2 separate regions of the Homo sapiens genome follow, and region 1 is linked to region 2. Evidence: fine-mapped expression QTL. A gene starts in region 2. The other region holds a variant in brackets. All regions are shown on one strand. Distances are between the middles of the regions. Region 1 has its middle 65 kb from the start of ZNF385B. Region 2 holds the start of CWC22 (CWC22 spliceosome associated protein).

Region 1 (4,402 bases), 80 kb before region 2:
AGTTTCTTTATGTTTAGTATATGCATTACATATCTTTTCCATTCTTTTACTTTCTGTTTGTGTCTTTACAGGTAAAATTTATTACTGATAAATAGCATAATTGAGTCTGAATTATCTAGACTGGCTTTCACTTAACTGAAAAGCTCACTACTCCATTTATCTTTCATGCAATTATTGATGTGTTTGTGTTTAATTCTATCATGTTTGTGATTTTTTTTCTATCTGTCCCATTTTCTCTTTATATCTGTTTCTATCATCTCTTGAGTGAATCAAGTCTTTTATAATATATTCTATTTTAGCTTCTCAATTGACTTTTTAGTTGCACCTCTTTGTGGAGATTACAATTCACAACTATATGGACTGAATTGTGTTCCCTCAAAATTCATATATTGAAACTCTAACCCCCAATGTGTTAGTATTTGGAGATGAGGCTTTTGAAAGGTAATTAGGCTTAAATGAGGTCATGAGGGTGGGGTCCTCGTGATATAGTTATTACCATTGTAAGAAGAGACCAGAGAACTTGCTTGCTTTCTCTCTCCACTGTATGGGGACATAGTGAGAAAGTAGCCAGGAAGAGAGCCTTCACCAGGAACAAAATTGGCTGGCACCTTGATCTTGAACTTCTCAACCCCCAGAACTATAAGAAATAAATGTCAGTTGTTTAAGCCATCCAGTCTACTATATTTTGTTATGGCAGCCTGAGTCGACTAAGACTGACTGCATCTTTATCTTTCATAGTATATCTTCGCAATTAATTTATGACTTCATCGATAGCATAAGCAGCTTACAACAAAGAACTTCTAATTACTGCCCTCCCTCACTTTGTGCTATTCTTTTCACACATTCAACTTTTATTTATGCTATGAATCCCATAATATACTGCTATTAATTTTTATTTAAACAACCAATAGTTTTTAAATGAAATTTGAATATACATATATTTCTATTTGGTAATTTTTATCTGGTACCTTTCCTCTCTGGAATATTTTTTCTTCAGTCTTAAGAAATTCTCTTAGGATTAATTTAATTGCAGGTCTGATAAAGAGGAATATCGTTCCATATTTTCTACATGTGCAAATGTCTTTATTTCACCTTCATGCTTGAAGATTCTTTTGCTGGGTATAGAATACTAGATTGTAGTTTTACTCTTTCAGCACTTAGAAGCTATTGTTCCATTGTCTTCTAGCCTTCAGTTGTTTCTAATGAGTAGTCTGTCAACATTCTTATTGTCATTAATCTGTATGCAATGTGTTTTCTACTTTCTGGCTGCTTTTAAGATGTTCATTTTATCTTGGATTCTTTTAGCAGTTTGACTATGATGTGCCTATGTGTAATTTAATTTGTATTTATTCAGCTTAGAGTTTGCTGAGTTTCTTGAATACGTGCACTGAGGATTTTCATCAGTTTAGGATTTTTGACCTCATTCTCTTTGTTCTCTTTCTATAACTCAAATTACATGTATGATTGATCATTTTATATTGTTTCACTTATCTCAGACATGTGTTCCACTTTTTCCTCTCTCATTTTTCACTTTGTATCAGTTTATATAATTCCTATTGACCTATCTTCAAGTACACAAAATCATTCTTGTGGTATGTACTCTGGGCTTGTAAGCCCACAAAATAATTCTTCATCTTTGTCATCATATTTTTTCATATCTAGGCTCTTTTAAAAATAGTTTTTACAGCTTTTCTGTTATTTCCTATCTTTTCACAAATACTATTCACCTTTTCTACTAGTACCATTAGCTAGTTTATCATGATTATTTTAAACACTTTGATAGGTTCAACATTTCGATCATCTTTGGGTCTTATTCAAGTGGCTATTTTCTTTCTTGATTATGAGTCATTTTACTTGCTTGTGTATCTCATAATTTTCATTAAATGCTAACATTGTGTATAAAGGAATAGAGATGAAAGCAAATAAAACTTTCACTTAGAAAAGGGTACCTTCTTTTCAGTCAGGCTGTTAATGAGAGAAG[T/G]TTAAACTATCTGTAATTGAGATGAGTATAGACTTTCTGATGCTCTAGATTTAGTTCAGCACAGACTTCAAAGGTTTGAGGGTAGGATTAGAATATTCCCTTTAGCACAGCTTGAGATTTGAGTAATTGGAGAGTTTGCCTAAGTTCTCTTTCCCTGACTTTAGCCTTTGGTATGCCTAGTGCACCTGTTTTTCAGGGGATTATCTGTCAGCTCTTTAATTTATCTCTCAGCTCCAGTAGGCTGCTGCTTTAAACTTGTGAGGCCTGAAATGCCTGGAAGTTTTCTCGCAGTTGTCCTGCTTTACCTTCAGGTTTCAGCAGGCCCAGAACACCTGTATCTAAGAAGAGCAGTGACATCTCTCACAAGTGTCCTACCCCTCACCCAACCATAGAAAGCTCCCCATTCTCAGGCCCATAGTGCTTTATGGAATTCCCTCCATTCTCCTGTCTTCCTTCATACTTTAGCCTGTGCTTCTGAAGGATAGATCTCTCCACTTCTCTGTCCTTCCCCAATCTTGCCAGCAATGACTCAGTGGAGGCCTTTGGAAAACATCTGAAACGAGCAAACTGTCTTTGTATATGGGCCACTTAGGGTTTCTGAATCATCATACCAGCCTTTATTTGGCTTTTAAAAATATGTTAAAAAGCTCAGCCATTTTCTTCTTATTTGCTTTTGTGGCAGCTTCCTCCTCCTCCAGCTTTTCTACAAGGATGGAGTAGCTGAGGATTTCTTCTCTCACTTTGATTTAGTTCATTAGTCTTTTCTTGCATCCTCAGCTCTTTTGCTGAATCAAACCTATGAATTTGTTATCCCCTTTCATTCTTATTAGGGTAGGAGCAATGTTTCCTTGTGACTTTCTATATTCTACACCCTAAGTGGATGCAAAGGAGCTAGTATACATATTCAAATAACATAAGACTATCTCTTAAATCTTCCTATACAAAATTAAGTTCTTCAGATAAATTTATGTTATTTCTCCTATATCCAGGCAGGATTATGATTACATTAACTTGGATTTGATCCTAGAGATTCTCAATCTTTTCTTGATAAAGTTACTTTCAATATAATAGAAGTTTTGTGTCCTATCATAGAAATTAGATCTAGTGTAATTAAACCTTATCCTAAGCAAGTCCCTCAACAATGAATCATCTCTCTCCCAATGACTCCCCACCACCTACTCTGTCACTTAGGCACCTTCCTCTAATATGCCTGTTCTTTAATCCAGCCTGCACATTGCTTAGAGAGAAACACTAAATCACAGAGCTGATCCTGTAAGTCCCTGTCTTTGAAGCCCTTCAATGACTCCCCATAGCACAGTTAACGATGCTCTTCATGATCTGGCCCTGCATTATTGTTACAACCCCTCTGCTCTAGATCATAAGGTATACAGTTTTGTTTGCATTCAACACCTATTTTGAATTCTTTTCTGTTTAGTAGTAGAAAAGTTAATCTAGTCAATTTTGGGTAAATCCAGTGAATTCATTATTTTCTTGCTCTTCATTTTCTCCCCTAGGTTGAGTGTCTCATTCCTGATTGTCATGGGCCTATCTTGAAATATTTCAGTTATCATCACTCTTCTACACTGGAAAATCCAGCAGTGTCTGAGTTTTCATTAGTCCTCTAGTCATGGGTTCCACATTATATCTGCTGCTGTGTTTTTTTCCTCCTTGTTATGAAGCCCAGCATCACAAATTCACAGGTTCTCAGTGTCATCTTCACAGAAAAGTCTTTTGGCTACTTCCGTCTCCTGGTTGAGTCTTACAAGGACTCTAAGACTTCCTACGATTCTTCTGTCTATTCATTATATTCAGAAATTTCTAACCTACTCTCTAGTGCTATGGTGATACAAAGAATTCTGTGGGGCTTGTCCTTTTCTAGGCAACCAAGAGGGGCAGCAGAATACAAGCCTCCTTAACTGTATTAGTTTGTTTTCATGCAGCTGATAAAGACATACCAAAAACTGGGAACAAAAAGAGGTTTAATTGGACTTACAGTTCCACATACTGGGGAGGCCTCAGAATCATGTTGGGAAGCAAAAGGCACTTTTTTTTTTTTTTTTTTTTTTGAGACAGAGTCTAGCTCTGTTACCAGGCAGGAGTGCAGTGGCACAATCTTGGCTCACCACAACCTCCGCCTCCCAGGTTCAAGCAATTTTCCTGCCTCAGCCACCTGAGTAGCTGGGATTACAGGCATGTGCCACCATGCTTAGCTAATTTTTGTATTTTTAGTAGAGACGATGTTTTATCATGTTGGCCAGGATGGTCTCAATCTCCTGACCTTGTGATCCACCCACTTTGGCCTCCCAAAGTGCTGGGATTATAGGCATGAGCCATGGCGCCCTGCCAAAAGGCACTTCTTACATGGTGGCAGCAAGAGAAAAATGAGGAAGAAGCAAAAGTGGAAACCCCTGATAAACTCAT
Region 2 (4,402 bases):
TGAGGACGGGGGAGGATGAATCATAGCATGCCCCTAAAGGATGAGCCAGAGCAGAAGTTCTCAAACTAATTGGCATGAGAACTACTCGAATGCTTTCGGAAAAAAAAAAAAAAAAGACAGACAGACTGTTGGGCCTCCATTTCCACGTTTCCGATTCAACAGAACTGGGTGAAGCCCAGTAATTTACATTGCTAACAAGCTTCAAGGAGATGATGCTGCTGATTCAGAAGACATTTTTGGAACCAATACACCAGTGTATTAGATCAAAGTTCTTGGCCTTTAACTTATAACCAAGACAGTCTCAGAGCCCCAGTCAACTGAGTTGGGAAAGACTCCATTAAAGTGGCATGGACACTTAAAACTAGGACACTAGCCGGGAGCGGTGGCTCACGCCTGTAATCCCAGCACTTTGGGAGGCCGAGGCGGGTGGATCACAAGGTCAGGAGACAGACACCATCCTGGCTAACACAGTGAAACCCCGTCTCTACTAAAAATACAAAAAATTAGCCAGGCGTGGTGGCGGGCACCTTAGTCCCAGCTACTTGGGAGGCTGAGGCAGGAGAATGGCATGAACTAGGGAGGCGGAGCTTGCAGTGAGCCGAGATAGCGCCACAGCACTCCAGCCTGGGCGACAGAGTAAGACTCCGTCTCAAACAAAACAAAACAAAACAAAAAACAAAAAACAACTGGAAGGACACTTACAGGTGGAAAGGCAACATTCAGAACCAGAGAACAAGAATTGAGGAACAGAGAGAACTCATCAACTGTATCATAGTAGTAATTTACAATAATACAACGCTAACGCTGTGCTCAGTGCCTCATCTGCATTATTTTTCTTTATACTCAAAAAAAGACAATACAGTGAGGCAGGTATTGTATTACTACCTACATGTTTCCAGATGATGAAGCTGACACTAGAGACTTTAGGTAACTTGCTCCAAGTGACAGACCTAATAATAGCTGGATAAAACAGAAATCTTTGGTCTACTAGTCCATCACCCAGGACCAACACAAGTGGCTTTCCTCCACCTACTGATAACGCCTGTAACAATGCTTCTCCTCTCCTGGTCAAAACCACACTTTTAATGTCAATTTTAAATCTGCCCTTCCATAGTAGGATGATAATTTATGTTAACTCCTGAATTCACAAGCAATCCTAAAACAAGGTAAGTCTAAATACAGATAAGAGGTAGGTTAACTGATCTGCTGAGAACCAAGTTTGCTTGCTTATCTGCTATTTCGAGTCTCTGCACATCTAAAAATGCAAAGGAAACTCTTACCTAATTCTTGCATCTAGAATAGCCTTTCTCCAAATCCTGCCTTCTCCACTTACCTCAGAAGAATTGTTAGGATTAAATGGAAATAGGTACCGTGGTTTTTGCAGTTAAACTCAGTGAAATTAACTATTATATTTCCGTTATATAATGCTGTGTTGTAGGACCCAGAGCTCGTTAGAGAGGTGGAGCCTGGAGACCCAAGTTTGGCAGTTATTACCTCACTGGAGATAGTTCAAGTTATGGAAGGATCAAGAATGACAGATGAAGCGGGCACATGAGAAGCGAAGTGTCTTCAAGACTAAACACTAGACACTATCAGTATTTACAGGGCAAATAAATGAAAAAGAAGACGCTAATGAAATTTAAAACAAATAGTCAAAGGGATATAATGCCGGCAAGAGGCATAAGAGTGCAAGTAATTCAACTAACTTTTAATCAACTAGATCTCATTAATCCCACTCCCCTGACCCTGGGACCCGGGCACTAGGAAAGGGGCTTTGGCAAGCCCCAATGGACTCCAGAGGCTCTAAGTATAAAACGCAGTGCACAAGAAACAACACAGCACCAGCGTTGGTGCAGGATTTCAGACAGCTCCAGGAACTTCACAAGGAAGGTCAGCCGGTCCGCTCAGGCAGTCAGTTCATGGCAGCCCATTCCCTCCCCACCTGCTTGGACCTAGCCGCTCTCACACCCCTCTTGCGGGCCCGAGCGTAGCGAGAAGACCCACGCACACTCCAATGCCGCTCACAGCCGTATCAGTGAGCCCGCACCCACTCCTGGGGGTCTTTTACTTCCCACCCGATCCGGCGACCCGCCACCCCCACTCCGCGTCTCTGCCTGCGGGGACTCCACGGAGTTCGATAATTACCTAGAGCTCCACCGCGCCGCCATTACACCGGACGTACGTCACTTCCTCTTCCCGAGCACCGACGGTAGGAAGAAGGCGAATAGTGAAATATTTAAAAACTTGACGCTCAATTGGCTTGACACGTTATCCCTTTAATTTATTTCAAATACCATATCATAATACCAGAGTCAAAGTAGTCGATCCAGGCACACTGTCTTGTTGCCAAAATGGCGACAAAAAAGAGAAGTTGGCATGAACTACAAAGTCCGAAATCCAGCGCCTGTGCTGACGGAAATGAGGAAAGCATAATTGTAGTTTAGCGTGAAATGGCGCGGTGTACGATGGGAATTGTAGTTCATACAGATGCGCGCCAGCGAGTTAACATCCACGCTGCTCACTGGCAGCCTAGTAGTGTTCAGGGTCTAGCCGAATTTACTTTAAAACTATTTCACTGCATTTTGGGGAAATTTTTTTTAAAAAAGCAGTCAGTTGTCACTTTCCTTGAAAAATCTTAAGAGAGAGATTTTCCTGAGACTTTATAAGAGTTTGACCAACAGTTAAGTGCCTAATAAATTCCAAGATATCCAGGCCATAAGAATGGGAGAATATTAAATCATAAATAGAGTGAAATAATGAGGAAAAACTAATTCTATAGAGACTGTGTTGCCTCTCTTTTAGGTTAAGGTACCAACTGGTATGACCTGAGAATAAAGAGATTGCCTGGCTGAGTAGGAAGTAGCAGTTTGTACAGCGTGCAGAACTAGGGCATCAAACAGTTTCTTTAAACTTCACTTTTCACTAGTAACAAAACCTAAAAGTTCAACTACTTGCTATTTTGGAAACTCTCTTCCTAAACCAAGAATATCTTTATGTTATCAAATCTTTCATAAACCAGGACTGGTTTCTCCACACACTTCTCTATTACAGTTTTAGGGTGCTGTGCTTCCACTCCTTTCTGGAGGCAGAGTGTGATGATTAAGAATAAAAACACTGCAGTTGGACTACTTATTTTGAATCTTGAGTCCTTTTATTATTTATGGATGACTGGGGCAAGTAACTTCACATTCTGTGGCCGTTTCCTGATCTGTTAAATGGAAATACCAATAGTATCCATCCAGGCAGTAGTTTTAAGAATTGAATTAGTTGATACACAAGATGCATTTAAGATAATTGCTAGTATACAATAGTGTTATCTATTTTATTTCATATTTAAGATATTTGGCCATTGTTGATGGTGCATTTTGGTGCACCAATACAGGGCACAGGAGATGGATCTGGAGATGAACATTTGTATTCATATATTTAAAAACCCACAATACTACCGGTGATGGTTAATTCTGAATGTCAACTTGATTGGATTGAAGGATGCAAAGTATTGATCCTGGGTGTATCTGTGAGGGTGTTGCCAAAGGAGATTAACAGTTGAGTCAGTGGACTGGGGAAGACAGACTCACCCTTAATCTGGTGGGAACAATCTAATCAGCTACCATCGAATATAAAGCAGGCAGAAAAATATGAAAAGGCAAGACTGGCCTAGCCTCCCAGCCTATATCTTTCTCCCATGCTGGATGCTTCCTGCCCTCAAACATTGGACTCCAAATTCTTCAGTTGTGAGACTCAGACTGGCTCTCCTTGCTCCTCAAGCTTGCAGACAGCCTATTGTGGGACCTTGTGATTGTGTAAGTTAATACTTAATAAACTCCCCTTTTTATATATATATCCTTATATATAGATATATATATTAGGATATATATATAAGGATATATATAAAAAATAGGATATATATGTAATAGGATATATATACGTGTGTGTGTGCGTGTGTGTGTATCTATCTATCTATCTATCTATCTATCTATCTATCTATCTATATCCTATTAGTTCTGTCCCTCTAGGGAACCCTGATGAATATACTACCTCTACAACTATCAACAGAAATAGGAAAGTTAGGGTTGAGCAGAGGAGAACTAGATGGAGCTGGAAAAGAATTGGATTTGTCAGTTGGGTCCTTCAGGAAGCAGACACTGAGAAAGAGTTATGAATAATAAAGGTGAAAGGAAAATGGAGGAAATAGTAGCTCCAGAATAAAGATGAAGAGGCCTACAATGGGATGAAATGGCTAGGCCCTTGTACCAGTTTTGCTCAGTCACTGGCTAGAGCCACCCCAAGAAGAGTGTGGCCTCAACTAAAAACCCAAGGTGGACATGAAGATTCAACAGTTGAAGGCTGTCACCTAACCACACTGCTTGCAGCTAGGCTACAAGCAAGTCCTTTCTTGAAG

The links. PIP is the estimated chance that this variant, and not a neighbour inherited with it, causes the effect.
Region 1: its variant is the best candidate, but not a certain one, in a credible set for the expression of CWC22 in whole blood (TOPMed, PIP 0.64).

Annotation. Positions count from the first base shown.
Region 1 is chr2:179,924,711-179,929,112 of GRCh38, forward strand. No RefSeq gene overlaps it. Among named protein-coding and RNA genes, the nearest start is that of ZNF385B, 65 kb to the left of the region's middle. The variant T/G (reference allele first, on the strand shown) is at 1,982.
Region 2 is chr2:180,004,925-180,009,326 of GRCh38, forward strand. It overlaps CWC22 (CWC22 spliceosome associated protein), which reads right to left and starts at 2,373. Exons shown (of 20, transcript NM_020943.3): 1 at 1,943-2,373. RefSeq lists an enhancer at 1,521-2,053.